Linked DNA regions of Homo sapiens: all the other regions are linked to region 2. The links come from fine-mapping of genetic effects on gene expression. A gene starts in region 2. Each other region holds a variant in brackets. All regions are shown on one strand. Distances are from middle to middle.

What was found. PIP is the estimated chance that this variant, and not a neighbour inherited with it, causes the effect.
Region 1: its variant is fine-mapped to the expression of CNTN6 in gastroesophageal junction (GTEx, PIP above 0.99).
Region 3: its variant is fine-mapped to the expression of CNTN6 in pituitary (GTEx, PIP 0.91).
Region 4: its variant is fine-mapped to the expression of CNTN6 in lung (TOPMed, PIP above 0.99).

Annotation. Positions count from the first base shown.
Region 1 is chr3:866,961-875,071 of GRCh38, forward strand. LOC107986058 (a long non-coding RNA gene) reads left to right here. Exons shown (of 3, transcript XR_001740584.1): 3 at 2,999-3,201. Among named protein-coding and RNA genes, the nearest start is that of CNTN6, 220 kb to the right of the region's middle. The variant G/A (reference allele first, on the strand shown) is at 3,135.
Region 2 is chr3:1,089,479-1,097,589 of GRCh38, forward strand. CNTN6 (contactin 6) reads left to right here and starts at 3,546. Exons shown (of 23, transcript NM_001289080.2): 1 at 3,546-3,642.
Region 3 is chr3:810,737-818,847 of GRCh38, forward strand. The region is part of intron 2 of LINC01266 (long intergenic non-protein coding RNA 1266); the gene reads left to right. Among named protein-coding and RNA genes, the nearest start is that of LINC01266, 220 kb to the left of the region's middle. The variant G/A (reference allele first, on the strand shown) is at 4,542.
Region 4 is chr3:1,234,857-1,242,967 of GRCh38, forward strand. The region is part of intron 4 of CNTN6 (contactin 6); the gene reads left to right. Among named protein-coding and RNA genes, the nearest start is that of CNTN6, 150 kb to the left of the region's middle. RefSeq lists an enhancer at 645-1,844. The variant T/C (reference allele first, on the strand shown) is at 4,566.

The sequences.
Region 1 (8,111 bases), 220 kb before region 2:
ATGCACACCCACCCACACACACATTATTAGGTGCTCACATCCTTACAATGGCACAAACAACTTTGCACTGAACCCTTTACTAGTCACTTACACTTCTCTTGACTTGAATATTCTGCTTATTTATCAGTGTAATGGTTTTTATCCAAATAAAGTAAAACAATAGAATTCAGGCCAATTAGCCTTTATATCCTTGTTGAAAATATTTAATATTACAAATAATTTTGTTTTTATTTAGTCCTCTTTAAATTTGTCTTTCACTGTATAAGACAGGCAATATATTCATGTTTATCATGTCAAAAAACTGAATCAAATGTTAAAGTGCTTTAAGAAAGCAACAGTATGAAAGCTGATCAAGCCCACTGTGGTCTGCATCTTCTTTATATGATATACTGCCTTTCAGAATTTTGGAGATGTTATTAAAAAATCAAATTTTTGAGGTCATTGATGGCATAGCATGTATTACATTCTTTATCTCTTCAGTTACTAGAACTAAAACACTAGATCGATTTTATATGTATGTATGAATTGATAATCTCAAATTTTTACATTTTTAATTTAAATATTTACATGTTTAAATTTTCATCTCTTTTCTGCTTTTTTTCCCAAAATATATTGTGTTCCTTAGTTCTATGTTTATATTTAGGAATGAATAATTGAACAAACTAATTTAGGCAGCTTGAGTGGATGTCCTCTTCACATACTTGCCTCTACCCCAGAACATGAGAAGTAACTGTCAGTAATTATTGGCAAGTATTAGTTTTCAGAGATGTGAGCAAGGAATGGACATGCCCTATCTCCAGCCTACGTGTATCCTCAATTAAAAATGATTTGGATTCTGTTCCATGTCTCCATGCCCACTCTTGGATCCCCAATTTTGGGCAGACAGATCGATCAATTTCTTTAGAATATATTAATCTGGACTCAGCATGAAAGAAAATACCCCATTGCAAATATGGCTTGGAAGGCAGAATAGTTTATCTAATTTATATACCCATCTTCTCAAATCTGAGATCTCTGTAAATACCAACTTCCAAGGACTCTTTTGTGAAGAGCAGCTTTCTCCTTCACTGACTCCTTTTTCTGCTAAGTCTATGAGCATTTCAGTTCATTCCTAAATGTGATATCATTTGCCTTCCTACTGCAAGGAATGTCTTTGTCTCCTGGTATCTTCCTTTTCTCCTATTCTTAATAGATTTATGAATTATTCTCTATTTTAATGTCTTGTGGTTACGGGAATCTCATGGAAGTTGACACATTTCTCAATATGTGTTATATGTTGGATCCCATCACATTGCTCAATTTGCATTTCATAATTGTGTCTTTGGTACTTGTTCATCTTCATTGTGTTCCTAGCAAGCAAAACCATCCCCTTAGCCTAACATCACTGTAACATAAATAAGCACTCCCCTAGTTTCTATGCATCCCCAAAATAAATTCAGCTTCATGTAAATATGACTATTGATAAAGATGTCCACTTATTGAATACACTTATCAAAAGATTTTTCTGGTGTAACATGGATATAATTTCTGTCTTAAGAACTCTAATTCTAAAGAAACCTGTGTATGGATTTCACCTTTAGGCCTTAGTTTAAACTTATTTAAATTTGTCTTCATAGATCTTACCCTCTCAAGCTATTCTGTTTTATGACAAAGACCAACACTAAGGTTTTTTATATTTATATATGTGAACTGAAATAACGTTCTAAAATATTTTAAATCCTACAAATTAGTTTCTTTCATTAAACAGAATCCTTTCTTTGTGTTGGACATTAATTCAGTGTTAATGTGAATATAATTGTCATGGATTAATATTAAATATTTGCCAATATCTCCCTTTACAACAGGATTTTTTATTAAAGTGTGTGGATGTCTTTTTTTCTTTATAATGTCTTAAAAAGAAGAAAACTTTGGTCATACTATAAAAGTTGAGTCTGATAATGTTTTATTATCTGGGAAACCATTTAAAAATAGTTTCATTGTTATTAAAATGACATCTGGGTTACATGTGAATAATTATTAAAATAATTATAGAACAACATGCATTTGTGAGGAATAATACAAAGAGATTCTGTATACACTTTGCCCAGCTTCCCCCAATGACAATATTTTGTTAAACTATAGTGTAATATCATGACAATAATATTGACATTTTACAGTCCGTCCAACTTACTCAGGTTACCCCAGTTTGGCTTGGACTCATTTGTGTGTGTATGTGCACATGTACATGTATAAATTCTATAGATTTTTATTAATGTGTAGGTTTATGTATCTACCATCACAGTCAAGACACTGAGAAGTTCCATCACCACAGGAATTCCCTATGCTACCGTTTGACAACCATGAGAAAGCATTTTTAATATATCTATTTTTACATTTGGGAAGGGTCAAAAGTCCTTTCATTAGCCCAGCTCCTGTCCAGATAATTTAAATTAATGATGTCTGTGTTCTTGTATGGATGGCATCACTGCTTGAAATATAGATCTCCAGGGTGCTCCTGCTCTCACTCTTTCTGAGCCATGATCTATTGCATGTCTGTACATCATCAAAGCAAATTGCTTCTTCAATGATGTGTAAGTATAATACATCATCACAATGGGACATGGTGATAATGCATTACCCAGAAAAAGATGACTGTCATATTTGACAGACAAGGTCAAGGAGCAAATTCAGGCAGCCCCAGCACATTTCATCAGCAGCATTCTTGGTATAGAAGAAAGTTTGTTTGCTTAGAATGATCCACTTGAAATGTGGACAAGGCTAAATACATACGTATGCCCTGGGTTGATTCCTTTGGTAAATTAAAAACGAGGTGGTTGAGCTTCCATTAAAATGACATCTGGATGACATGTGAATAGTTTTTCTGTCCACAGGGTGTTTTGAATCATGTGTGTTTCTTACTCATTCAGCATCAAATTGTTTTCCAGAGAAAGCTCTTCAACAAGATTGCAAAGTCCTTCAGGGTAGTAACTGTCTTATACATCCTTTGTTTCTTTCACAGTGTCTAAAGCATTGCTGAGCACATGGAAGACACTCAATAAATACTCGTTTAATGGAATTGAATTTGTAAGCACCAGAGACTCATGCTTCCTTTTCACATAGCTTGACACTTGGCTGCCCAGGATCCTTGCATGCAA[G/A]GTGGTAAGGTTACTGTGGGAAAATTCTGTTGGCTTACTATCCCATTTGCTGTCTGCTCTTTCTTTGTTTCTTCCTCCTTTTTTTTTTTTTTTTTTTTTTTTTTTGTAGAGTCTTTCAGCCAGGAGCTATTTTTATAAAGAATTTCATTTTTTGCTCATGAGGATTAAACTTTTAAGTTTGGCTTCAGGGTGTGAGAGAAGTACAACTTATGAAGGTTGCTCTGCACTGCAAAAAGGATAGGATTTGAGGAAGGGATGTTTCTGACATTGGCACAGCAGTATTCCGTTCTCCCCCATCCCCCAGTTGCTGCCAAATTGGCCTTTCTTTAAAGCATACAGTATTTATTTCTCTAGTCCTTGGATCATAGCAATTTTATTTCAATGTCACCAGTGAAGGAGAGAAAGGCAATATTTTGTCCAAGAGTGGGATTTGAAAATGAGTCCTCTGAGGATATGTTAGAGCAACCTAAGTATTAGATGCTGGAAAAATGGATCATTTCTTGATATTTCGGTAGGACACATCTCCATTTCAAATATATGCATGCTACAATGCAGTGAATACATAGTGCATTTTAGTCAGCTCTAAAAGTAACCAAGCCAAATTTTATACAATTGATACAGACAATGGGTGTTCAAGTGGGAATACATGTTACTGGCTCTCTGCCGGCATGATGAAATAGAGGAGGCAAATAGATACAGCTCACGTGCCAATTCTGGTTGCTCAGTCACAGTTATATCAATATCATGTTGATAAAAGTTATAAATCAGGGATCAATTTGCAACATCTACCAGGGGCCCAAGTAGAAACATGTGGTATGCATGACAGTTATGAATCAACCCTGGTGGAGGAAAAAGATGGAGAGTCATGGACCATACGCCTAACAAAGTAATTGTACCTGGTCCAATTTTGGACCATGAGTAAACCATTTAATAAAAATATATCATAGAATTGTTTTGAGATTACATTTTAAGTTGCATAAGCTATAATGTTTGTTATGATTATGCTAATTGTATATATCATTAGAGAAAATAATCACTAAATATTTTGAAACAAAAGAAACAATGAATTTAAGTAATAAATATAATCCCACTCAGCCAGAGACGACAAGTTATTGATACTCTTGTAGATACATTTATTATATAAAAACAAATATATTATGTGATTTATATTTTATCTTACATATTATTTTAATATCGATATTTTTCTCTCATAATACACCTTTAATATATTTCAATTTCAAAAGATAATTTCTGAAAAACTGTTTTTATATTTGCATGGTAGTTAATTATATGGCTATACATAATTTTTTTAAACAAACACCTATATTTTTACATTGAAGAAGGATCTAAATTTTGTATATGAATCATACTCATATTAAATATTTTTGCAATAAAAATGTTTCTACTTCTTTAGTAAAATCCCAAAGGCTGATATATTGGATCAAATGTTCTACAGATTTAATGGGATTTATTCAGTACTTAAAAGGAATTGTATTAAATTAAACTGCACAAAGTCTGTGCCAAATTATGCACCTGCAAACAAATGTATCTGATTAGAAGGCAGTGCAGTAAGTTCTTTTAAAAGGCTTGTTTTTTAAAAAATGAATTAGCTCCAAAACTATTTATATATTAAGGAACAATTTGAGCATGACACAAATTTCTTGTTTGCCTATGTGTTACCTCATCTTTGAGAAACACTAGGCGGATGCACAAAATGGCACCTGGCAGAACAAAGCCATGTAGCAATACATAAAATGTAAGCATAAACAAACCTCAAACATCCAACAGCTACTTCAGCTCAGCACAGGTGTGATGAGACCACCCATCTATATCTGGTGTTACAGCTTTCTGTCTGATTTCAGATAATTCTTATTTCACCACTTTGCAATTCCTCCCAAGCTGAAACCCTTTCAATACTCACTTCCACAAGCAAACCTTAGTTTTTCTTCAAAAAGGAAGTGTCATATTTCTTTTATGAAACTATATATTTCTTTACCACTTAATATGGATAAAAGTATGCTACTATTTTTATTAGGTTCCTATGATTTTCTTCTGTGTATGTCACTGAAAAAGTTTTTGACTATTGTTTCCCAACACCAGTCTCCCCATAAGCCATGTAATTTTTTTTTCATAAATTTGCATCGCAAGGTGAATTTTAGGAATACATCATATAACGGAGCTGATTCTTTATGTGTGTATACTTTCTGAAAGATTCCCTATGTGAGATAAGAAAAATAAAAAGCGTTTTCCTTGCTCTCATATTCAATTCAAATTTATGAACCAGATGTATTGGTTCCCCGTGACACACAACAAGCAGCTAATTCTCTAACAGATACCAACTGGGTATACTATAACTTAGCTCAATTTTGACACTATCTACCTAGAATTATTATCAGATGCTACAGGTTAAGCACTCAGTCTCATAGGACTAACCTCAATTTAAAATGCCAATTGCAAGCCTGGGGTTTTGACCTGTGCTTCTGAGTGATTGGCTATAAATCTGAGTTCCCATCACCCCTTCCTCAGATTCAGCTAATTTGCTAGAGAAGCTCAAAGAACTTAGGGAAACACTTTACTTAGTTTACCCATTCACTATAAAATACATTACAAAGAATATAGATGAACAAGACAGATGAACAGGTGCATTTTTAAAAGAGCCAGGGCAACGTATGAAAGCTATTTACCCACCCTCCCAGGCACCTCCAGGGAACCCCGACTTTTGGATTTTTTATAGAGGCAACATTACATAGACGCCATTGATTATATCATTTGTCCTTGGTGATCAACTCAAACATCACTCCCTCTCTCTTCCCTGGAGGGTTGGGGTGGGGCTGACAACTCCAACTCTAATTATGCCTTGGTCCTTCTGGTGACCAGCCCAGTCCTGAAGCTATCTAAGGGTCCCAAACCACCAATCATCTCATTAATATGCAAAGACACATCACTCTAGAAATTCCAAGGGTTTTCAGAGCTGTGTGACAGGAACCAGGGTCAGAGAGCAAATGGATAGTTCTTATTATATCATAATATCACACTCCAATAAGTCAACACTTGCCTCATTCAAGACTGATTCTAATAAAGAATGATAACTATTATTTTTCACTACTTAAAGAGTCAGACCTATGTGGAAGTTGCACTAAATCCAGTTACAATTTATTCCACCACGAAGCTTGGAAGCTCTATGACCCTTAATACAATGTTAATGTGAAAGTTTTATATTGTCTGCAAACCAAAAACTATCTGAGACTGGTCTCAATTAATTTAGACATTTATTTTGCCAAAGTTAAGGACAGTGCTTGGGAGACAAGACTGTGTCTTTCTCCAAAGATGATTTTGAGGGCTTCAATATTTAAAGGGGAAAGGGCAAATGCTGGAGAGAGAGAAAGACATTTTTAAAAGCTGTGGGTAGTTAAGAGGCAAGCAGTTGCATTCTTCTGAGTCTTTGATCAGCCATTCACATGTGACAGTAGGGTAGAAAAATCGTCACTTATGCATTCATCTAGCTCAGTGAATCTACATTTTTTACATAAAATAAAATAAACTTAAGGCTGAAGAAGCAATCAGATAAGCATTTACCTCAGATGAGCGAAGTGAAGACTTTGAGTTCTGTCCTTTGTCCTGTATTTGTGAAGACAAGCTATCAATGTACATGGTCAGGGTAAAATTCAACATAACTGTCTCAGGATAAAGATCTTGGGGCCCACAAGGAATTTGCTCTTGGGAAAATTATGAGGGAGCTATGTAGCTTTTTCATGTTTTTAGCCATCTTAGAAACAAAATGGGAGGCAGGTTGCATGACGCAGTTCCCAGTTTAAATTTTCCTTTTGACTGAGGGAGTTTGGAATCCTGAGATTTATTTTCCTTTCACATATTTTGCTCAATTTATTCATGAACTGTGATTTTATTCAAAATTATTTTATTTTCAAATTCATTGCATTCAAATAATCATAAAATGTGTACCTGCATTAAATGAGGCAGTGTTGTTCTTTTTCTTCCTTCATTTACAAAAGCTTTTTTCCACTTTTTTCATTGAATAAAAAAGAAACTTAGTTATGGCTAGGATAAATAATGTAATATGTGACTATTTTGCCAGTTATGTTTCTTCTACTGTGAATAGCCTATGCCATAAATAACCCATTTTTCAAATGAGCAGGCATTTCTTCTATTATTAGTTTGCATGAGCTCTTTAAATATATCTTATGTAGCAATTTTCAGTTGGTTAGATACATGAGTTTATCCCTAGCTTTTCTAATAGCACTATTTCCAATGTTACACACACACACACACACACACACACACACACATACAGCACTCACTTATAAGTTGAGTGAACTCCAGGTAAGATAAACCAAAGAATTCCATGCCAAGAGACATTTACAAATCTTGAAGAGCCAGAGAAAACCCACACCGTACCTTTAGAGATAAATAATACAAATGGCAGTAGATTTCTTATCAGAAACCATGGAGTCCTGAAACAAGTGGCACAATGCAATGCTGAAAGAAAAGGCCTTTTAATTGAGCATCCTAGACCCAGTGAAAATGTCCTCCCAGATTGAAGGGGAAATCAAGCCATTCTCAGATGAGAAAACATTAATTTGTTATTATCAAACCTACCATAAATAATGGCTAAAGAAATTTGTTCTCTAAACAAAGGAAATGACGTTCCAAAAATCTTGGAACATCTGAAAGAAAGAAACAATACAGTAAGCAAAACTTTTGTAAATACAGTAGGATTTGTTGAGTTTTCTAAAATATGTTTGATGGTAGAAGAAAAAATTATAACTTTGATGTGGTTCTAAATGCATGCAGAGGAAATTTTTTTTTTTTTTTTGAGATGGAGTCTCACTCTGTCACACAGGCTGGAGTGCAGTGGCAGGATCTCGGCTCACTGCAAGCTCCGCCTCCCGGGTTTACACCATTCTCCTGCCTCAGCCTCCCGAGTAGCTGACACTACAGGTGCCCACCACCACGCCCAGC
Region 2 (8,111 bases):
TTTTCAGTGGTTTTCATTTGAGCCTGTTTGATTAGTGTCTAGTAGCTGTGTCTTGCGGTTTTGATTGGCATTTTTAAAATAATGATGTTGAGCATCATTTTAATGGGCTTAAATGTCATTTGGATATCTTTGCTAAAAATGTTCATTTTTTTTTCATTTTCTAATGGGTTGCTTATTTTTTTGTTATTGAGGTGTAAAAATTTCTTAATGATATATTTCAAAAATCAGTCTTTTTAAATTTAATGAAGTCCAATATTTCTATTTATTCTTTATGTTCTGTGTTTTTATGTGTGTGTATGCACATGAGTTTTAAGAAATCTTTGCTTAATCCTAGGACTCATACATTTTCTTTCAGAAGTTTTTTTTTTTTTCAACTTTTATTTTAAGTTCGGGGTACATGTGCAGGATACGCAGGTTTTACGTAGGTAAACGAGTGCCATGGTGGTTTACTGCACAGATCATCACATCACCTGGGTATTAAGCCCAACATTCATTAGCTATTCTTCCTGATACTCTCCCTCCTCCCACCCGCCACGATGGGTACCAAGATGTGTGTTGTTCCCCCTCCATGTGTCCATGTGTTCTCATCATGCAGCTCCCACTTATAAGTGAGAATATGTGGTGTTTGGTTTTCTTCCAGAAAATTTAATGCTGTACCTTTAAGTGTGTGACCTATTTCACGTTAGCTTTTTGTGTGTGGTACGAGGTAAGGATTAAGGTTAACTTTTTTACAAATGAATATTCATTTGTTCAAGCACCATTTCTTGAATTATGATGCCTTTATCATTGAATTACCTGATAACTCTGTCTAAAATCCATTCACCTAAAATCGGCACATATCCATTAGCACAATATCCATTGAATTACCTGATACCTTTGTCTAAAATCCACTGTATATGTGCTGATCTGTTTTTGAACACTTAATTATGTTTTGTTGACCTATCCTGCCAACATCACACCGTCTTTATCGCTCTATTACTAGTAGTAAATTGTAAAAATCACAGGATATGTCTGCCAACTTTGTTTATCATTCGATTTTACTTTCTTGGTTAATTTTATTGCTACATAAATTTTAGCCTCATTTGATGATTGCTACAAGAAAATCTCCTGATATTTTCACTGAGATTATTTTAAAGCTAAAAACCTATTGGGAGATAATTGACTTCTTAAAAATATTGAGTGTTTTTGACCCATGAATGTGGCATATTTCTTTACTTATTTAGGTCTTAATTAATTTTCCTTAGTAATTCTGTGTAGCCTGTAGTGTACAGACCTTGTTTTAGATCCTTGATACCCACACCTCCTCCCCCAGTGTTTAAAAATTAATAAAATGAGAAGATATCAGCAAAGGGATCTGAGAAGGAGCAGGTAGTAAACGAGAAGAAAATTTAAGAAATTAAGCAAAAGCAATGCTTAAAGGAGGAGTACTTGGTAAACTGTATTACTTGTGAGTGATACATCAAGTAAAATTAGGACTAAGTTGACCATTGCATTATTCTATGCGTAATTTAATATTGACTATGACCAGAAACACTTATGTGGAACAGTGGGGACAAAAGACTAATCAAAGCAGATTCAAGATAAAATGAGAAAAGATGAATGGAGACAGTAAGTACAGAGAATTCCTTCAAGGTGTTTTACTATAAACAGAAGCAAGGAAATGCAGTAGTAGACAGAGGAAGACGGTATGTTAAAGGGGTGCTGATTTTTAAAATGGGCCAACTAGCAGCAAATCTCTTTGTTGTGATGCTACAGAAGGTAGGGAGAGTTGATGATTCCACAGAGAGAGACAAGTGGGTAGAATGGTCCCTTGAGTAGAAGACTATCTAAAGCACAGGTGGATGGCTTGGTCTAAGGAGGGAGCACGGTTCACCTCAAGTAACAAGATGAAGGGAGAGTCTGTGGTCACAGGGGCCAAGTATGTGACTAGATGTAGTGACAGGAGCTTATTGAAGTTTTCTTCTGGTTCTTATTCCTTTTTGGGTAAAATAGAAAGCAAAGCAATCAGCTGTCCTTGAATATGAGTCAGACTGTTGGAGATTTGAGTAAAGGGATATTCTTTAAGCTTGAATGAATTTCTTTCCACAAAAAAAAAATAAAGCCTACTACATAATGATTATTTTTCTTAAAACTCTGCAGAAAAAGTCATCTTGGCATTTTTACAAATAAAATATATTTTTATTCCTACAGAGCAAGAAATACTTCTATTTTTTTTAAAAAAAAAAAAAAGAGGCAATAAAAACAGATATTCTTTCTATAAAATTATTAGTCTAGTTTGCCTTCTTATGAATTGGGAGAAACAATAGGGTAGCCCATTTTGAGTTTACCTTGTGTTAGGAAGCATCATCTCCTTTCTAAAGCCTCTTATAATGTTGGTTAGACCCTGTGAAGAAATCCATAGGACATAGTCATAAAATGTAGTCATAGAAACCTTCTTGCTCATCAGATGAAAGTAAACTGAGGCCAAGAAATATCTTTTGACTTATTTCCATTTGATTTGGGGATTTCATTTTCTCAGTATCCACTTACTTTAAGATGCTAAGAGTATAATTTCTTTGTATGCCAACATGAAAATAAGTCCAAACTATCATTCTTTTCTCATGTTATAGTTATGTTTGTATGCACTAGAGTCTCAGTGTGCATGTATGTGTAATTCCTATTCCTTAGTTTTCATCCTTCAAGCAGTTAGTCCCTTCAAAACCCGATGACAAGACCCAAACATATTAAAAAGTTTAGTTGGAGGGCCCAGGGTGAAACACAAAAACAATTCTTCTTCTTACAGAGCTCTTAGGCAAACACATAGACACTTGTTCTCTGCCTCTGGAATTACAAATATGTTACTCGGAAAGCAGCAATACTCTTTTGGACTTGTTTGACTTCACTTTCTTTACCTGTCTTTAAGAAGCCTCATACACACATTTAAAAAATACAACTTATAAAGGTTTTAGTGATAGTGCATACAATCATTTGATTTTATTTCCCTTTTCTCTTCACCTTCACTAATAGGAGTTACTGGCATGCTTCAAAAAGCTTACATTTGAATACTGTCTAAATCAGTGCAGACCCTTGACCAGCTTAATCTTTGCTTGCAAATGACAATGCAGTGAAACCAGAGGAAGAAAAAAATTACTTCCTTTCCTGTTGGAAACCTAATAAGTAGTTAGTCTGACCCAGTTTTCAATAAGAGAGATTTTCTGATGACCCGACAGGAGTGACTATCTCCAGTCAAAGAAAGAGGAGGGTGAATTTAATCTTTCATGGCCCTGGAATGGCAGCTGCTCTCAGCTCTCTCTGATTCTGTGAAGGTTGATGAAGATAGAGCTGGCTTTCAATGTAGAAAGAATTTTCCTTTTGAATATTCCAAACGAGAGCTTTGCACATGTGCCTCAAGAACTGATTGTCTGGCTCCGACAGGAATGCAGCAGGAGAGGAGCGTATTTCATGCTTAAGACCAGAGAAGAGCCACGCAATACTCAGTGGATAAAAGGCTTGCAGTCCCAGCTGGGAAAAAGAGTCCCATTATCTCCCAGCTGCATAGACATTCCATACGGCTTGGTTCTGCCTGGACGCACAGCATGCCTGGCTGAGAGCTTGAAACAGAGTTCTGCAGAAAAACTGTAAAGATCCCGAGACATTTCCCTGGTAAGATCTGTAAGTACAAAATTGTGCTGTGTCTGCTGCAATGAGAATATTGCTGGGCAAGCTGCAGCTTTTCTTCCTTTCAATGTCTTTGTATTAGCATAACAGGTAAAAGCTGGGGTTGGGGGAGAAGTCACTGCTTTATTGATGCTGTGTTTCTATGATGCTGATGTTTAAAATGCATTTATTCCTTGTGTGGGAGAAATGTATTGAATCTGTATTCCGGGAGGTTAGGATCAAACCAGGGAAAGAAAGACTACAGGTATATTTCTCAGTGTTTCACTAGTCTTTGCTGCAGTAAAACTAATGGGCAAGACGGGATGACAGTGCTAATTCTGGGACTTTCAGATGGCTACACGCCCTTTCTGTAACGGCAGATGGGAAAATGTGATCGCTAAATGTTTTTTGTCTTTTTTTTTTTTTTAATCAAAGGGATGAGGGGTGGGGTTTGCAGTTCTCACCGGATGATTTAAAAGAATGGTTATAAAGTTTCCTAGGGGAGAATTTGGTAAGGGGAGCAAAGCAAGACTGGAGGTCATATGGGCTCACCAAATTTTGTCTGGCATTTTGCTTTATACCCAGCTTCTAGATAACAGCCTCTGGAGTTTCCTTTACCATTTACACCAGTTAAGTTGTCAGTATTAAGGTTCTTATAATACTTTATGAAAACTTTCAGAAGTTGATGACTTGGGAACAAAACTTTTAAGAGCTCTGAGATTAGCCACGTATAACCCATTATGTTAATGGGATACTGTAACATTGGGGTTTGGGGGGAAAATTGGAATTCATAGTTTTTGCTTCTCCAAATGAAAACTACTTATGTTTAAATAATCAGCATCCTGACTATGTCCTCTGAGAAACATTCACAGAATGACTAAATAGAAGTTATACTGAGAAAAAATAGAGTGAACAGTAGAATCACACAGAATCAATTTGGAAAATGAGGTATTCATAATTTTATCTACAGTGGCAATGTTTTCTGAAGATGTCTGTAAAAGAAGAAGCATATGCTGAATATTGAATTGCTTGTTTTGAGCAATTTTCATTTATCTGATGGGTTTATCATCTTTTTATTTTTGTTGTTGAAGGTTTCACCAATTTATGTGCATTGTATTTTATAAGGAAAGAAATGTTTAAGCAGACTCTTTTTCCCTCCTCCTTCACACACATGTGTAAACATACGCATGTTCACAAAACAAACATAAACATACAAAAATACTTACACAATTTGTGTAAAAAAAAAGAAATACAGAAGCATTTCATCTTTGATGTTTCAGTGGGGTTTCTTTTTCTTTTTTTAAGCAATAATCATGGCTGTGCAGTCCAAAGATTTCAAATATATAAATGTGGAAACTTTTATATAAAGCTTTATGTGAGGTTATATAAATGCATAACTTATCACATCTTAGCAAAAAAGTCAATCATTTATAAATGACTTCATTGCATTACTTCCTTTGAATATTTGTAGTGAAGGACCAGAATTTTTTTTTAGAATTTTTATGTAGCTTTCCTTAATGAAAACAAATTCACTTGTTTACTTAGAAAAGGATCACATATTTTCTCTGAGTTTAGAACCCCCTCTAAAAAAAATCAATTATGTTGTGAAAAGGATGTGTGGTATATTAAATTGATTGCATACTTCTGGGTTTTTTTTTTAGTAAGTAAAAATGCTCAGTAGTATAATAGTAAATTTGTACCTTTTAAATTCTTTTATGTGAGGAGAAGGAATACAAAATATTTGCTTATTTATTCACTGTTTATTTTAATAACATATTAATTGGAATGCAGAAGTATAAGTTCTACCTATTAAAAATGACTCAAACTATACATAAAAGTTCAAAAGGGAAAACCCATCACCTGTAAATAACAATCATGAAATTTGGCGACTATCATTGGAGACATACTGGTGCCTAAATTCAGATAAGATGAGAGATAAATACTTTTGTAAGAATGGTTTCTTACTATACACCTTTTAAAAAATAAATAATAAATATTTAGATAATATAGTCAATAATAGATACTCTTCTGTAAGAATGAGATCTTATCCTACACTTAAAAAAAAACAGAAATATTGGCCGCGCGCGGTGGTTCACACCTATAATCCCAGCACTTTGGGAGGCCGAGGCGGGCGGATCACGAGGTCAAGAGATTGAGACCATCCTGGCCAACATGGTGAAACCCCATTTCTACTAAAAATACAAAAATTAGCTGGGCGTTTTGGCGTGTGCCTGTAGTCACAGCTACTCAGGAAGCTGAGGCAGGAGAATCACTTGACCCCGGGAGGCGGAGCTTGCAGTGAGCAGAGATCGCGCCATTGCCCTCCAGCCTGGGTGACAGAGTGAAACTCCATCTCAAACAAACAAACAAACAAACAGAAAACAGAAAACAGAAACATTGAGTTTAATTTTTGATTTTAGATTTTAATTAAACTGAAAAAAGAGAAGTTGAAACAACATTGAAGAAATTGTTAAATTTCATGTATAGATTTCTCTCCAATGGAGATATTATGTCCAGAATAATACCCTTACAGTTAAGACCAAAAATTTTGAAAATAGAAATAGTTTGAAGATTTTTTTGGATGCACGTTTAAATAGTAAACAAACTTTTATAACCCTTGTTATGATAGTTAAATGCATTTGCAATGTGACTTGTCATCAACTCCACCCATACCACCTCAATTTAAACTACATCAGTTTTACATTACTGAGTACATACATTCTGGCTGAATTCCCATGGTCTCAGTTTAAACTTATTTCAAATTTGTAAGGAATTATCCTTTATCAACAGGCTTTTACTACCCAATTCACCATTTCTGTGTTCTTTATTTTCAATTATTTTTTGGGTTGTTAGATTTCAGTAAGTAGTACCTCTCCACCAAAGAAATAGTCATAGGTGCTATATTTTCTATGAGTTTGCATCTTGAACATGTATTTCTTTTGCCTTAGACATGCAAGATACGTTATCTTTCTTGGATCAAGCTTAATTTTTTCTTTTGGAAATGTGTAAATGTTTAAACATTTTTGGAGACCCTTCCTGTACTGAAAGTTGTTTTGCAACATTTTTAGGTCTGTCTGCAATTTCCGTCATTGAATGTGACTTGCTTTTTTTCTGATAAATGCCTACATGATTCTTTTGTTGTGTGTGTGTGTGTGAGTGTGTGTATGGGTGTTTGCTTTTACAGAATATTCCTGGATTTGTTCCATTTTCATTAACTTTTTTTGAGGTTTGCCCCATTAATTTAAGATTCTTTTATTTTAGGATTTGTTGTACTATTTCTTTTTTGTCCCTTAACTGGGCGTGGCCAAATTGTGGTTATCTTGCTTCTTTCTTTTCTTCAGGATCACCAATTTTGTACATGTTGTATCTCATTTGTCTACTTTCCACATCTTTCATATCCAAATTTCTTTTCAATTTTAATTGACAAATTGGTTATCTTCTTTATTTGAGAACCACTTGTTCTCTTGTTTGCCACTTGAATGAATAGTATAGCTTGCAATAAACCTATTAAGGCACAACCTTCTGTATTGTGATCTTGTAAATACATGTTTCCTTCTCTTAACACTCTAGCAATTTCCTCAGCTGGCAGGTTTTTGGGCAATCTGTATCCTCCTGAAAGTAAGAGAAAAAGAAAGTACTGATCGGTTTTCTCTGATGTCCCCCAAAGGTCCATGATTTTTAGTATTTGGCTACAGTGGAAATGGGCTTCAAGTCGTGTTTTGGGGTTTTGTCCACTAACATTTTCACTGAAGACGGAGGGTTTTTGCTTCGTTTTTTATCTGCACCACGACCACTGCCACCTTTTATATTTCTCTTTATTGTTTCTGTGGGACAATAGAGGACATTTAAAAATCTCTTTATTTAAGGAGTTTTAAATAGCAATCTTTCAGTTTGGAGGAATTCTTTGAATGAAAATTTTATTAGAATGTTGTTATTCTCAGTATTCATATTGAAAAGAGCTGTTCTAGTTAAGACTGAGTTCATCTGCATGATGTGTTGTAGTATTAAACATTTATTACGGTAAAGGCGTAACACAGGACATAGTAGAGGAAAAACAGAGCCATTGGGCATGCCTTCTGATAATGTCCCCTATTAGTTTATATTGATGAAGTCTGTGGCCTACTTAACTATTTTGCAATGAGTCCTAAGGTAATTTACAGAAACGTTACATCATAGTAACATGAATCAAAATCTGTAGACTCAAATCCTTTTTGAAAGTATACTGAGTAGAAAACTTATATGTATTAGGTTTACAATTAAATGAATAAATGAATGAATAAATAACTGAATTTCCCTATATTTCAAATCCTTAAAAGAGGCAATAAAAGAACATGATGTGTCGTATGAAGTATTATAAAAAACGAATGATCTTACTAAAAAGCAAATAGCAATTTCTCAGTGTCAATAAAATGATAGTGAGAGCAAGATTCAGGAGGCAAGCTCTTGAGCTGAAGTGCCGCCCATTGTAGATTTCC
Region 3 (8,111 bases), 280 kb before region 2:
CTATGTGAAAAGACCAAATCTACATCTGATTGATGTACCTGAAAGTGATGGGGAGAAAGGAACCAAGTTGGAAAACACTCTGCAGGATATTATCCAGGAGAACTTCCCCAGTCTAGCAAGGCAGCCCAATGTTCAGATTCAGGAAATACAGACAACACCACAAAGATACTCCTCGAGAAGAGCAACTCCAAGACACATAATTGTCAGATTCACCAAAGTTGAAATGAAGGAAAAAATGTTAAGGGCAGCCAGAGAGAAAGGTCGGGTTACCCTCAAAGGGAAGCCCATCAGACTAACAGCGGATCTCTTGGCAGAAACCCTACAAGCCAGAAGAGAGTGGGGACCAATATTCAACATTCTTAAAGAAAAGAATTTTCAACCCAGAATTTCATATCCAGCCAAACTAAGCTTCATAAGTGAAGGAGAAATAAAATACTTTACAGACAAGCAAATGCTGAGAGATTTTGTCACCACCAGGCCTGCCTTACAAGAGCTCCTGAAGGAAGCACTAAACATGGAAAGGAATAATCAGTACCAGCCGCTGCAAAATCATGCCAAAATGTAAAGACCATCGAGACTAGGAAGAAACTGCATCAACTAATGAGCAAAATCACCAGCTAACATCATAATGACAGGATCAAATTCACACATAACAATATTAACTTTAAATGTAAATGGACTAAATGCTCCAATTAAAAGACACAGACTGGCAAATTGGATAAAGAGTCAAGACGCATCAGTGTGCTGTATTCAGGAAACCCATCTCACATGCAGAGACACATATAGGCTCAAAATAAAAGGATGGAGGAAGATCTACCAAGCCAGTGGAAAACAAAAAAAGGCAGGGGTTGCAATCCACGTCTCTGATAAAACAGACTTTAAACCAACAAAGATCAAAAGAGACAAGGCCATTACATAATGGTAAAGGGATCAATTCAACAAGAAGAGCTAACTATCCTAAATATATATGCACCCAATACAGGAGCACTAAGATTCATAAAGCAAGTCCTGAGTGACCTACAAAGAGACTTAGACTCCCACACATTAATAATGGGAGACTTTAACACCCCACTGTCAACATTAGACAGATCAACGAGACAGAAAGTCAACAAGGATACCCAGGAATTGAACTCAGCTCTGCACCAAGCGGACCTAATAGACATCTGCAGAACTCTCCACCCCAAATCAACAGAATATACATTTTTTTCAGCACCACACCACACCTATTCCAAAATTGACCACATACTGGGAAGTAAAGCTCTCCTCAGCAAATGTAAAAGAACAGAAATTATAACAAACTATCTCTCAGACCACAGTGCAATCAAACTAGAACTCAGGATTAAGAATCTCACTCAAAACTGCTCAACTACATGGAAACTGAACAACCTGCTCCTGAATGACTACTGGGTACATAACGAAATGAAGGCAGAAATAAAGATGTTCTTTCAAACCAACGAGAACAAAGACACAACATACCAGAATCTCTGGGACGCATTCAAAGCAATGTGTAGAGGGAAATTTATAGCACTAAATGCCCACAAGAGAAAGCAGGAAAGATCCAAAATTGACACCCTAACATCACAATTAAAAGAACTAGAAAAGCAAGAGCAAACACATTCAAAAGCTAGCAGAAGGCAAGAAATAACTAAAATCAGAGCAGAACTGAAGGAAATAGAGACACAAAAAACCCTTCAAAAAATTAATGAATCCAGGAGCTGGTTTTTTGAAAGGATCAACAAAATTGATAGACCACTAGCAAGACTAATAAAGAAAAAAGAGAGAAGAATCAAATAGATGCAATAAAAAATGATAAAGGGGATATCACCACGGATCCCACAGAAATACAAACTACCATCAGGGAATACTACAAACACCTCTACGCAAATAAACTAGAAAATCTAGAAGAAATGGATAAATTCCTGGACACACACACTCTCCCAAGACTAAACCAGGAAGAAGTTGAATCTCTGAATAGACCAATAACAGGAGCTGAAATTGTGGCAATAATCAATAGCTTACCAACCAAAAAGACTCCAGGACCAGATGGATTCACAGCCGAATTCTACCAGAGGTACAAGGAGGAACTGGTACCATTCCTTCTGAAACTATTCCAATCAATAGAAAAAGAGGGAATCCTCCCTAACTCATTTTATGAGGCCAGCATCATTCTGATACCAAAGCCGGGCAGAGACACAACCAAAAAAGAGAATTTTAGACCAATATCCTTGATGAACATTGATGCAAAAATCCTCAATAAAATACTGGCAAAACGAATCCAGCAGCACATCAAAAAGCTTATCCACCATGAACAAGTGGGCTTCATCCCTGGGATGCAAGGCTGGTTCAATATACGCAAATCAATAAATGTAATGCAGCATATAAACAGAGCCAAAGACAAAAACCACGTGAGTATCTCAATAGATGCAGAAAAAGCCTTTGACAAAATTCAACAACCCTTCATGCTAAAAACTCTCAATAAATTAGGTATTGATGGGACGTATTTCAAAATAATAAGAGCTATCTATGACAAACCCACAGCCAATATCATACTGAATGGGCAAAAACTGGAAGCATTCCCTTTGAAAACTGGCACAAGACAGGGATGCCCTCTCTCACCACTCCTATTCAACATAGTGTTGGAAGTTCTGGCCAGGGCAATTAGGCAGGAGAAGGAAATAAAGGGTATTCAATTAGGAAAAGAGGAAGTCAAATTGTCCCTGTTTGCAGACGACATGATTGTATATCTAGAAAACCCCATTGTCTCAGCCCAAAATCTCCTTAAGCTGATAAGCAACTTCAGCGAAGTCTCAGGATACAAAATCAATGTACAAAAATCACAAGCATTCTTATACACCAACAACAGACAAACAGAGAGCCAAATCATGAGTGAACTCCCATTCACAATTGCTTCAAAGAGAATAAAATACCTAGGAATCCAACTTACAAGGGATGTGAAGGACCTCTTCAAGGAGAACTACAAACCACTTCTCGAGGAAATAAAAGAGGATACAAACAAATGGAAGAACATTCCATGCTCATGGGTAGGAAGAATCAATATCATGAAAATGGCCATACTGCCCAAGGTAATTTACAGATTCAATGCCATCCCCATCAAGCTACCGATGACTTTCTTCACAGAATTGGAAAAAACTACTTTAAAGTTCATATGGAACCAAAAAAGAGCCCGCATCGCCAAGTCAATCCTAAGCCAAAAGAACAAAGCTGGAGGCATCACACTACCTGACTTCAAACTATACTACAAGGCTACAGTAACCAAAACAGCATGGTACTGGTACCAAAACAGAGATATAGATCAATGGAACAGAACAGAGCCCTCAGAAATAACGCCGCATATCTACAACTATCTGATCTTTGACAAACCTGAGAAAAACAAGCAATGGGGAAAGAACTCCCTATTTAATAAATGGTGCTGGGAAAACTGGCTAGCCATATGTAGAAAGCTGAAACTGGATCCCTTCCTTACATCTTATACAAAAATCAATTCAACATGGATTAAAGACTTAAATGTTAGACCTAAAACCATAAAAACCCTAGAAAAAAACGTAGGCATTACCATTCAGGACATAGGCATGGGCAAGGACTTCATGTCCAGAACACCAAAAGCAATGGCAACAAAAGACAAAATTGACAAATGGGATCTAATTAAACTGAAGAGCTTCTGCACAGCAAAAGAAACTACCATCAGAGTGAACAGGCAACCTACAAAATGGGAGAAAATTTTCGCAACCTACTCATCTGACAAAGGGCTAATATCCAGAATCTACAATGAACTCAAACAAATTTACAAGAAAAAAAACAAACAACCCCATCAAAAAGTGGGCGAAGGACATGAACAGACACTTCTCAAAAGAAGACATTTATGCAGCCAAAAAACACATGAAAAAATGCTCATCATCACTGGCCATCAGAGAAATGCACATCAAAACCACAATGAGATACCATCTCACACCAGTTAGAATGGCAATCATTAAAAAGTCAGGAAACAACAGGTGCTGGAGAGGATGTGGAGAAATAGGAACACTTTTACACTGTTGGTGGGACTGTAAACTAGTTCAACCATTGTGGAAGTCAGTGTGGCGATTCCTCAGGGATCTAGAACTGGAAATACCATTTGACCCAGCCATCCCATTACTGTGTGTATACCCAAAGGACTATAAATCATGCTGCTATAAAGACACATGCACACGTATGTTTATTGCGGCATTATTCACAATAGCAAAGACTTGGAACCAACCCAAATGTCCAACAATGATAGACTGGATTAAGAAAATGTGGCACATATACACCATGGAATACTATGCAGTCATCAAAAATGATGAGTTCATGTCCTTTGTAGGGAAATGGATGAAATTGGAAATCATCATTCTCAGTAAACTATCTTAAGAACAAAAAACCAAACACCGCATATTCTCACTCATAGGTGGGAATTGAACAATGACAACACATGGACACAGGAAGGGGAATATCACACTCTGGGGACTGTTGTGGGGTGGGGGGAGTGGGGAGGGATAGCATCGGGA[G/A]ATATACCTAATGCTAGATGACGAGTTAGTGGGTGCAGCGCACCAGCATGGCACATGTATACATATGTAACTAACCTGCACAATGTGCACATGTACCCTAAAACTTAAAGTATAATAAAAATAAATAAATAAATAAATTACAAGTAGCATAAACTAAGATGGATGTGTAGATAGATACATAGGCCCCTTGTTATGTTTTCTTATCTTTCAGAACAAAAAAGTAGACAAGTTTCCTAGTCAAGATATTCCTTAGCTACAGCAGTCACAGGAAAATTATAGCACATGTTACCTCTAATCATATATCTGTCTATAGAATGATTCATCCTGCATGTTTCTAACAGAGCGATCATTGCTCAGCACAACCCTGCTCATTTAATTACTCCTCAGAATCCTCAAGTGGCTCTCAATACTTCCAAAATACAAGTCAAATCAGGTTTGCCTGTCTTCCAAACTCCTCAACAATTCAACTCTCAGCCATCTTTCATTTTGAAACACAGGTTGTTTTGGTAGAATTTACATAAAATAAAATTTACTCTTTTTGATGTATAATTCTATGAGTTTTACTAACGTATATAGTCATGTGACTACAAATAAAATCAATATATAGAACATTTTCATCACCTGAAAATGTAACCTTCTGCCTCTTTGTAGGCATTCATCTCCCTCAGTCCTAGCCAGTGGCAACCACTGACTTATTTCTTGTCCTTCAACTTGACTCCTAGAAACTCATGTAAACGGAATCATAAAGGATATAGCCTTTTAAGTACGTATTGTTTCACTAACTTAATGTATTTGAGATTTATCCATATTGTTGCTTATTTAGTAGGTTGAGCCTTTCACTTTTTATTGCTATCATTCCATTATATGGATAGGCCAAAGTTTGTTTAACCATTTGTCCATTGAGAGATATTTATGTGGGGATTTGCTGACAAGATGGCCAAATAGGAAAAGTTCCAGTCTGCAGCTCCCAGCGAGATCGACGCAGAAGGTGGGTGATTCCTGCATTTCCAACTGAGGTAAGCAGTTCATCTCATTGGGACTGGTTGGAGAGTGGGTACAGCCCGTGGAGGGCAAGCCAAAGCAGGATGGGGCATCACCTCACCCAGGAAGCACAAGGGTTGGGGGAATTATCTCCCCGACCCAAGGAAAGCAGTGAGGCACTGCACCATGAGGAATGGTGTGCTCTGGCCCAGGTACTGCACTTTTCCCATGGTCTACACAACCCACAGATCAGGAGATTCCTTCTGGTGCCTAAGCCACCAGAGCCCTGGATTTCAAGCACAAAACTGGGTGGTTGTTTGGGCAGATACCAAACTAGCTTCAGGAGTTTTTTTTCAATACCCCAGTGGCGCCTGGAACACCAGTGAGACAGAATCGTTCACTCCCCTGGAAAGGGGGCTGAAGCCAGGGAGCCAAGTGGTCTGGCTCGGGGGATCCCACCCCCATGGAGGCCAGCAAGCTTGGATGCACTGGCTGGAAGTTCTCGCTGCCAGCACAGCAGTTTGAGGTTGACCTGGGATGCTCAAGCTTGGTGTGGGGAGGGGCCTCTGCCAATGCTGAGACTTGAGTAAGTGGTTTTACCCTTACAGAGTGAACAAAGCTGCAGGGAAGTTCAAGCTGGGCAGAGCCCACCGCAGCTCAGCAAGGCCATGGTGGCCAGACTGCCTCTCCAGATCCCTCCTCTCTGGGCAGGGCATGTCTGAAATAAAGGCAGCAGCCCCAGCTGCTTATAGATAAAACCTCCATATCCCAGGGACAATGCACCTAGGGGAAGGGGCAGCTGTGGGCGCAGCTTCAGCAGACTTAAACATTCCTGCCTGACAGCTCTGAAGAGAGCAGCAGATCTCCCAGCACAGAGTTTCAGCTCTGCTAAGGGTAAGACTTCCCCATCAAGTGAGTCCCTGACCCCTATGTATCCTGACTGGGAGACACCTCGCAGTAGGGGCTGACATACACCTCATACAGGAGAGCTCTGGCTAGCATCTGGCAGGTGCCCCTCTGGGACGAAGCTTCCAGAGGAAGGAACAGGCAGCAATCTTTGCTGTTCTGCAGCCTCCACTGGTGATTCTCAGGAAACAGGGTCTGGAGTGGACCTCCAGCAAACTCCAGCAGATCTGTAGCAGAGGGGCCTGTTAGAAGGAAAACTGACAAACAGGGATAGCATCAATATCAACAAAAAGGACGTCCACTCAGAGACCCCATCTGAAAGTCACCAACATCAAAGACCAAAGGTAGATAAATCCACTAAGATAGTGAGAAACCAGTGCAAAAAGGCTGAAAATTCCAAAAGCCAGAACACCTCATCTCCTCCAAAGGATCACAACTTCTGGCCAGCAAGGGAACAAAACTGGATGGAGAATGAGTTTGACAAATTGACAGAAGTAGGTTTCAGAAGGTGGGTGATAACAAACTCCTCCGAGCTAAAGGAGCATGTTTAACCCAATGCAAGGAAGCTAAGAACCTGGAAAAAAGGTTAGACAAATTGCTAACTAGAATAACCAGTTTAGAGAAGAACATAAATGACCTGATCGAGCTGAAACACAGCATTAAAACATCCTGATGCATAAACAAGTATCAATAGCTGAATCAATCAAGCAGAAGAAAGCATCTCAGACATTGAAGATCAACTTAATGAAATAAAGTGAGAAGACAATATTAAAGAAAAAAGAATAAAAAGGAATGAACAAAGCCTCCAAGAAATATGGGACTATGTGGAAAAAAACTAAATCCACATTTAATTGTTGTACCTGAAAGTGACGGGGAGAATGGAATCAAATTGGAAAACACTCTTAAGGATATTATCCAGGAGAACTTCACCAACCTAGCAAGGCAGGCCAACATTCAAATTCAGAAAATACAGAGAACACCACAAAGATACTCCTCAAGAAGAGCAACCCCAAGACACATAATTGTCAGATTCACCAAGATTGAAATGAAGGAAAAATTATTAAGGGCAGCCAGAGAGAAAGGTCGGGTTACCCACAAAGGAAAGCCCCTCAGACTAACAGGAGATCTCTCAGCAGAAAACTTACAAGCCAGAAGAGAGTGGGTGCCAATATTCAACATTGTTAAAGAAAAGATTTTCAACCCAGAATTTCATATCCAGCCAAACTAAGCTTCATAAGTGAGGGAGAAATAAAATCCTTTACAAACAAGCAAATGCTGAAAGATTTTGTCACCACCAGGCCTGCCTTACCAGAGCTCCTGGAGGAAGCACTAAACATGCAAAGGAACAACTGGTACCAGTCACTGCGAAAACATACCAAATTATAAAGACCGTCGACATTATGAAAAAACTGCATCAATTAACATGTAAAATAACCAGCTAGTGTCATAATGACAGGTTCAAATTCCCAAATAACAATATTAACCTTAAATGTAAATGGCTTAAATGTCCCAATTAAAAGACATAGACCGGCAAACTGGATAAAGAGTCAAGACCCATCAGTGTGCTGTATTAAGGAGATCCAGCTCATATGCAAAGACACACATAGGCTCAAAATACAGGGATAGAAAAAGATTTACCAAACGAATGGAAAGCAAAAAAAAAGCTACGGTTGTATTCTTAGT
Region 4 (8,111 bases), 150 kb after region 2:
AACAGCATAACCACCAATTGTTATCATATCAAGGAGAAAACTTTGTCTTTGCTTTTAAAAATAATTCAGATCTTAAACAAATAGACTGTAAGCAGTTGCGTGGTTAAATTATAGCAAGCCACTGTTATATTTATATTTAAAATCAACAGGGAAGTAGATTATTCAATGCTTTAGCCTCATTTTTTCCCACACTATCGCTGCTGGAAATCTATTTATGTGTCTTATCAGAAATGGTACTTTTTCAAAATTCAGGCCTTCTCCCACTGCCTACTTCTACTTATATTCAGCAGGAGCTAGTCTTTTTAGTTCATTTGAATAAAATTGTGCAGGCTAAGAGTTGGGATGGGAGAGGAAAATATAAGAAAGTAGGGGATCCATTCTATCAAAACTGGGAGTTTCTGATTTACAAAACTGAGACAGATGCACAAGCTGAAATGCTTGTTTATTACTCATGTTATTTGACAAACTGTTTCAAGGAATTTATGAACATAGCACATAGAGATTTTGCTTCTAAGATTTATAAAATTGGTTCAAATTACAGTGACATTTTTTGCATTAAAGGATCAAATATTTCTATTGTTTATTTATATATAAATAAATATATAATACATATAAAGAGCATTTATAAGTAATAATGTGTATATAATTATCTGAATTTATATCCAATATTGTCTAAAAAGTAAATCAGATTCAGGTGTTTAAATAGCAAATACAGGAGAGAAGATGGCGGATAAGCAGCAAGACTAGCTTGCAGCTCCTGCTGGGAGGGATAGAGCAGCATGTGGAGACTCACATCATACTTTGCCCCAGAAACTACCCCAGGAACATACCAGGAAAGCCGAGAGAATCCACAAACCCTTTGAAAGAACTGGATCACCGCTGCAGGCTCCCTGAGATGCAGAAAAACTGTGAGTCGGCTTGCTTTCTCAATAGGGAGGCTGGTGGTCTGGGGCAGGTTCTCAGCCCTGGTCACTAGCTGTCTGGAAATAGACTCAGTGCTGCTGGGGGCGGGTGGGGCATGGTGGGAGTGAGACTGGCCTTTAGGACTCACGCTGTGTGGGGGTGGGGTGAGGCCTGTGACTGCGTTTTCCCTCACTTCCCTGGTGAACTGTATGACTCAGCAGAGGCAGCCATAATCCCCCTGGGAATATAACTCCATCGGACTGGGAACTGTACCCCCATCCCTCACAGCAGCTGCAGCAAGCCCCACCCAAGGAGAGGCTGAGCTCAGACACACCTTATCCCTATCCCAGTCTGGTGGTCTTTCTCTATGTGTCCTGGTAGCCAAAGACAAAAGTCATAATGTCTTGAAAGCTCTATCGCCCTGCCCACCACCTGAGAAACCTGAATACTTTTGCATCCTCCGTATAGGACCACAGCTGATGCACTCCCGAAGCGCCATCTCCTGACTGGAGGCCAACCAACACAAAACCAGCGCTAAACAAAAACGCAACCAAGGACCCTCACAGAGTTCACTTCACTCCCCTACTACCTCCACCAGAGCAGGTGGTGGTATCCACAGCTGCAAGACCTAAAGATGGATCACATTACAGGACTCTGCAGACACTCCTCAGTATCAATCAGAGCCTGGTAGCTCCACTGGGTGCCAGATCCAGAAAAGCAAAGCAATCACTACAGTTCAGTTCTCAGGAAGCCCCATTCCTAGGGGAAGCGGGAGAACACCGAAACAAGGGAGCACCCCATGGGACAAAAGACTCTGAAGAGCAGCCCTTGAATCCCAGATATTCCCTCTGACATAATGTACCCGAATGAGAAGAAACCAGAGAGACAATAATGATAATATGACAAAATAAGGTTCTTCAACTCCCCCAAAAGATTATGCCAGCTCACCTGCAATGGATCCAAGCCAAGATGAAACTTCTGAATTGCCAGGAAAATAATTCAGAAGGTTAATTATTAAGCTAATCAAGAAGGCACCAGAGACCAGGCGCGGTGGCTCACGCCTGTAATCCCAGCACTTTGGGAGGCTGAGGCGGGTGGATCACAAGGTCAGGAGATCAAGACCATCCTGGCTAACATGGTGAAACCCTGTCTCTACTAAAAAATACATAAAATTAGCCAAGCGTGGTGGTGGGCGCCTGTAGTGCCAGCTACTTGGAAGGCTGAGGTAGGAGAATGGCGTGAACCTGGGAGGCAGAGCTTGCAGTGAGCTGTGATCACGCCACTGCACTCCAGCCTGGGCAACAGTGCGAGACTCTGTTTCAAAAAGAAAAAAAAAGAAGCCACCAAAAAAAGGTGAAGTCCAGCTTAAAGAAATTAAAAACATTATACAGAAAATTAAAGGAAAATTCTTCAGTGAAATAGATAGTATAAATAAAAAACAATCACAAGTTCTGGAAATCTAGGACACAGAGTAATGTAAAATGCATTGGAAAGTCTAAGCAATAGAATCAAACAAGCAGAAGAAAGAACTTCAGAGCTCTAAGACAAGGCTTTCAAATTAACCCAGTCCATCAAAGACAAACAATAATAATAATAATAATTCTTAAAAAATGAGCAAAGCTTCCAAGAAGTTTGAGACTACATTAAATACCCAAACCTAAGAATAATTGGTGTTCCCGAGGAAGAAGAGAAATCTAACAATTTGGAAAATATGTCTGAGAGAATAATCCAGGAAAACTTCCTCAGCTTTGCTAGAGATCTAGACATCCAAATACAAGAAGCTCAAAGAACATATGGGAAATTCATCACAAAAAGATAATCACCTAGGCATATAGTCATTAGGTTATCTAAAGTTGAGACAAAGGAAAGACTCTTAATAGCTATGAGACAAAAGCATCAGGTAACCTATAAAGGAAAACCTATCAGATTAACAGAAGATTTCTTAGCAGGAACCCTACAAGCTAAAAGGGATTGGGATTCTATTTTTAGCCTCCTTAAACAAAACAACTATTAGTCAAGAATTTTGTATCCAGTTAAAGTAAGCTTCATAAATGAAGGAAAGACACAGTCTTTTCCAGACAAATAAATGCTGGGAGAATTTGCCACTACCAAGCCAACACAAGAACAGCTAAAAAGAGCTCTAAATCTGAAACAAATCTTCAAAATACACAAAAATAGAACCTCCTTGAAGCACACATCTCACAGAACCTATATAACAATAACACAATGTTTAAAAAAAAAGAAAAGAAAACAGAAAACAAAACAAAAAAAAACCACAAGGTATTCAGGCAACAAAATAGCACGGTGAATAGAATAGTACCTCACATCTCAATACTAACATAGAAAGTGAATGGCCTAAATGCTTCACTTAAAAAATACGGAATGGCAGAATAAACGAGAATTCTCCAATAAAGTCTCTGCTGTCTTCACGAGACTCAACTAACACAGAAGAACTCAAATTTACTTATAGTAAAGGGGTGGAAAAAGATATTCCGTGCAAATGGACACCAAAAGCAAGCAGGAGTAGCTATTCTTCTATCAGACAAAACATACTTCAAAGCAACAGCAGTTTAAACAAACAAAGAGGGACATTATATAATGATAAAAGGATTAGTCCAACAGGAAAATATCACAGTTCTAAATATATATGCACCTAACACTGGTGCTCCCAAATTTATAAAACAATTACTACTATACCTAAGAAATGAGATAGATGGCAACACAATAATAGTGGAGGACTTTAACACTCCACTGACAGCACTAGACAAGTCATCAAGACAGAAAGTCAACAAAGAAACAATGGACTTAAACTATATTCTAGAACAAATGAACTTAACAGATATTTACAGAAAATTCTATCCAACAACTGCAGAATACACATTCTATTCATCAGCACATGGAACATTCTCCAACATAGACCATACGATAGGCCACAAAATAAGTCTCAGGAAATTTAAGAAAATCGAAATTATATCAAGTACTCTCTCAGACCACAGTGAAATAAAATTGGAAATCAACTCCAAAAGGATCCTTCAAAACCAGGCAAATACATGGAAATTAAATAATCTGCTCCTGAATGATCAAACAAAAAGCTGCCTCTTTGAAAAGATAAATAAAATTGATAGACTGTTAGTGAGATTAACCAAGAAAAGAAGAGAGAAGATCCAAATAAACTCTATTAGAAATGAAGCGGGAGATATTACAACTGATATCACAGAAATACAAAAGATTATTGAAGGCTACTATGAACACCTTCACATGCATAAACTAGAAAACCTAGAGGAGATGGATAAATTCCTGGAAATATACAACTCTCCTAGATTAAACCAGTAAGATATAGAACTGGAACAAGATAGGGATGCCCACTTTCACTCCTTCTATTCAACATAGTACTGGAAGTCCTAGCCAGAGCATTCAGAAAAGAGAAAGAAATAAAGCGTGTCCAAATTGATAAAAAAGAAGTCAAACTGTCTCTGTTTGCTGACGTTACGATTGTATACCTAAAAAGCCCTAAAGATTCATCCAAAAATCTTCTGGAACTGGTAAATGAATTCACCAAAGTTTCCAGATACAAAATTAAAGTACACAAATCGGTAGCTCTGCTGCCTACCAACAGTGACCAAGCTGAAAATCAAATCAAGAACTCCACCCCTTTCACAATA[T/C]CTGCAAAAACAAACAAACAAACACTTAGGAATATATCTAATCAAGGATGTGAAAGACCTCTACAAGGAAAACTATGAAACACTGCTGAAAGAAATCATAGATGACACAAACAAATAGAAACACATCCCATGCTCATGGTTGGGGAGAATCAATATTGTGAAAATGACCACACTGCCAAAAGCAATCTACAAAGTCAGTGCAATTCCCATCAAGATAGCACCATCATTCTTCTCAGAACTAGCAAAAACAATCCTAAAATTTACATGGAACCAAAAAAGAGCCCACACAGCCAAAGCAAGACTAAGCAAAAAGAACACACTGGGAGGCATCACGTTACCTGACTTCACCTTTTTCTCTGAGGCCATAGTCACCAAAGCAACATGGTACTGTTACAAAAATAGGCACATAGACCAATGGAACAGAATAGAGAACCCAGAAATAAAGCCAAAAACTTGCAGTCAACTGATCCTCAACAAAGCAAACAAAAATATGCAGTGTGGAAAGGACATCCTATTCAACAAATGGTGCTGGGATCATTGAAAAGCCCAGTGTAGAAGAATGAAACTGGATCCTCATCTCTCACCTTAAAAAAAATCAACTCAAGATATATCAAAGACTAAATATAAGACCTGAAACCATAAAGATAATGGAAAATAACATTGGAACAACACTTCCAGACATTGGCTTAGGCAAAGATTTCATGACCAAGAACACAAAGCAAACACAACAAAAACAAAGATAAATACATGGGACTTAATTAAACTAAAAAGCTTCTGCACAGCCAAAGAAATAATCATGAGAGTTTACAGACAACCCACAGAGTGGGAAAAGATCTTCACAATCTATTTATCCAACGAATGACTGATATCGAGAATCTACAAGGAACTCAAACAAATCAGCAAGAAAAAAACAAACAATCCCATTAAAAAGTGGGCTAAGGACATGAATAGACAATTCTCAAAGAAGATATACAAATGGCAAGCAAGCACAAATGGGAAAATGCTTAACATTGCCAATTATCAGAAAAATGTAAATCAAAACCACAATGCAATACGACCTCCCTCCTGCAAGAATTGCCATAATCAAAAACTCAAAAAATAATAGACATTGGCATGGATGTGGTGAAAAGGGAACAGTTTTACACTGTTGGTGGGAATGTAAACTAGTACAATCACTATGGAAAACAGTGTTGGAGATTCCTTAAAGGACTAAAAGTAGATCTACCGTTTGATCCAGCAATCCCACTACTTGGTGTCTACCCAGAGGAAAAGAAGTTATTATACTAAAAAAAAAAAAAGAAAAAAAAGAAAAAAATTTCATGTGTGTCCGTGTGAAGAGACCACCAAACAGACTTTGTGTGAGCAACATGGCTGTTTATTTCACATGGGTGAAATAAACCCATGCACCTTCACGTGGGTGCAGGCGGGCTGAGTCTGAAAAGAGAGTCAGTGAAGGGAGATAGGGGTGGGGCTGTTTTATAGGATTTGGGAAGGTGATGGAAAATTACAGTCAAAGGGGGTTGTTCTCTGGTGGGCATGGGTGGATCTCACAAAGTACATTCTCAAGGGTGGGGAGAATTACAAAGAACCTTCTTAAGGGTGGGGGAGACTACAAAGTACCTTCTTAAGGGTGGGGGAGATTACAAAGTACATTGATCAGTTAGGATGGGGCAGGAACAAATCACAATGGTGGAATGTCATCAGTTAAGGCTGTTTTTACTTCTTTTGTGGATCTTCAGTTACTTCAGGCCATCTGGATGTATACGTGCAAGTTACAGGGGATGCGATGGCCTGGCCTGGGCTCAGAGGCCTGACATTCCTGCCTTCTTATATTAATAAGACAAATAAAACAAAATAGTGTTGAAGTGTTGGGGTGGTGAAAATTTTTGGGGGTGGTATGGAGAGAGAACGGGCGATGTTTCTCAGGGCTGCTTCAAGCGGGATTAGGGGCAGTGTGGGAACCTAGAGTGGGAGAGACTAAGCTGAAGGGAGGTCTTGTGGTGAGGGGTGATATTGTGCGGATGTTAGAAGAAACATTTGTCGTATAGAATGATTGGTGATGGCCTGGATATGGTTTTGGATGAATTGAGAAGCTAAACGGAAGATACAAGGTCCGAATTAAAAGGAGGAGAAAAATGGGTATTAAAGGACTAAGAATTGGGAGGACCCAGGACATCCAATTAGAGAGTGCCCAAGGGGGTTCAGCATAATTACTTGCTTGGTTGGCAAGTTTTTGGGCTCTATCCTTGAGTTTTTTTATGTTGTCATACACCAGGCCAGATTGATTTAGGTAAAAACAACACTCCTCATTTAAGAATATGCAGAGTCCTCCTTTTTCAGCAGTAAGTCAGTCAAGGCCTCGGCGGTTTTGGAGGACAACTGCAGCTAAAGAGTCAACTTGGGCCTGGAGGACTGATAAAGTTTGTGATTTTGAAGGCCTCTAAAAGTATTAAAGCAGCAGCAGCCGCTGCACGCAGACATGAGGGCTAGGCTAAAACAGTAAGGTCAAGTTGTTTGGACAGAAAGGCTACAGGGTGTGGTCCTGGCTCTTGTGTAAGAATTCCGACCATGCTAACCATGCCTAGGAAGGAAAGGAGTTGTTGTTTTGTAGAAGGTGCTGGGGTTTGAGAGATCAGTCGGACACGATTGGCAGGGAAAGCACGTGTGTTTTTATGAGAATTATGCTGAGATAGGTAACAGATGAGGAAGAAATTTGGGCTTGATTGAAGTAATGGGGGCTGTCTGTGAAGCTTTGCAGCAGTACAGCCTTGGTAATTTGCTGAGCCTAATGGGTGTCAGGGTCAGTCTAAGTGAAAGCAAAGAGAGGCTGGGACGAGGGGTGCAGGGGAATAGTGAAAAAAGCATCTTTAAGATGGAGAACAGAATAGTGAGTTGTGGAGGAATGGATTGAGGACAAAAGAGTGTAGGGGTTGGGCACCACAGGGTGGATGGCAAAACAATTTGGTTGATAAGGCGCAGATCCTGAACTAATCTGTAAGACTTGTCCGGTTTTTGGACAGGTAAAATGGGGGAATTGTAAGGAGAGTTTATAGGTTTTAGAAGCCCATGCTGTAGCAGGCAAGTGATAACAGGCTTTAATCCTTTGAAAGCGTGCTGTGGGATGGGATATGGGCGTTGAGCGGGGTAAGGGTGATTAGATTTTAACGGGATGGTAATGGGCATGTGATCAGTTGCCAGGGAAGGAGTAGAGATGTCCCATACTTGTGGGTTAAGGTGGGGGGATATGAGAGGAAGACGCGAAGGAGGCTTTGGGTTGGGGAGAAGGGCGGCAATGAGACACAGCTGTAATCCAGGAATAGTCAGGGAAGCAGATAATTTGGTTAAAATATCTCGGCCTAATAAGGGAACTGGGCAGGTGGGGATAACTAAAAAAGAGTCCATAAAAGAGTGCTGTCCAAGTTGGTACCAGAGTGGGGGAGTTTTCAGGGGTTTTGAAGCCTGGCCGTCAATACCCACAACAGTTATGGAGGCAAGGGAAACAGGCCCTTGAAAAGAAGGTAATGTGGAGTGGGTAGCCTCCGTATT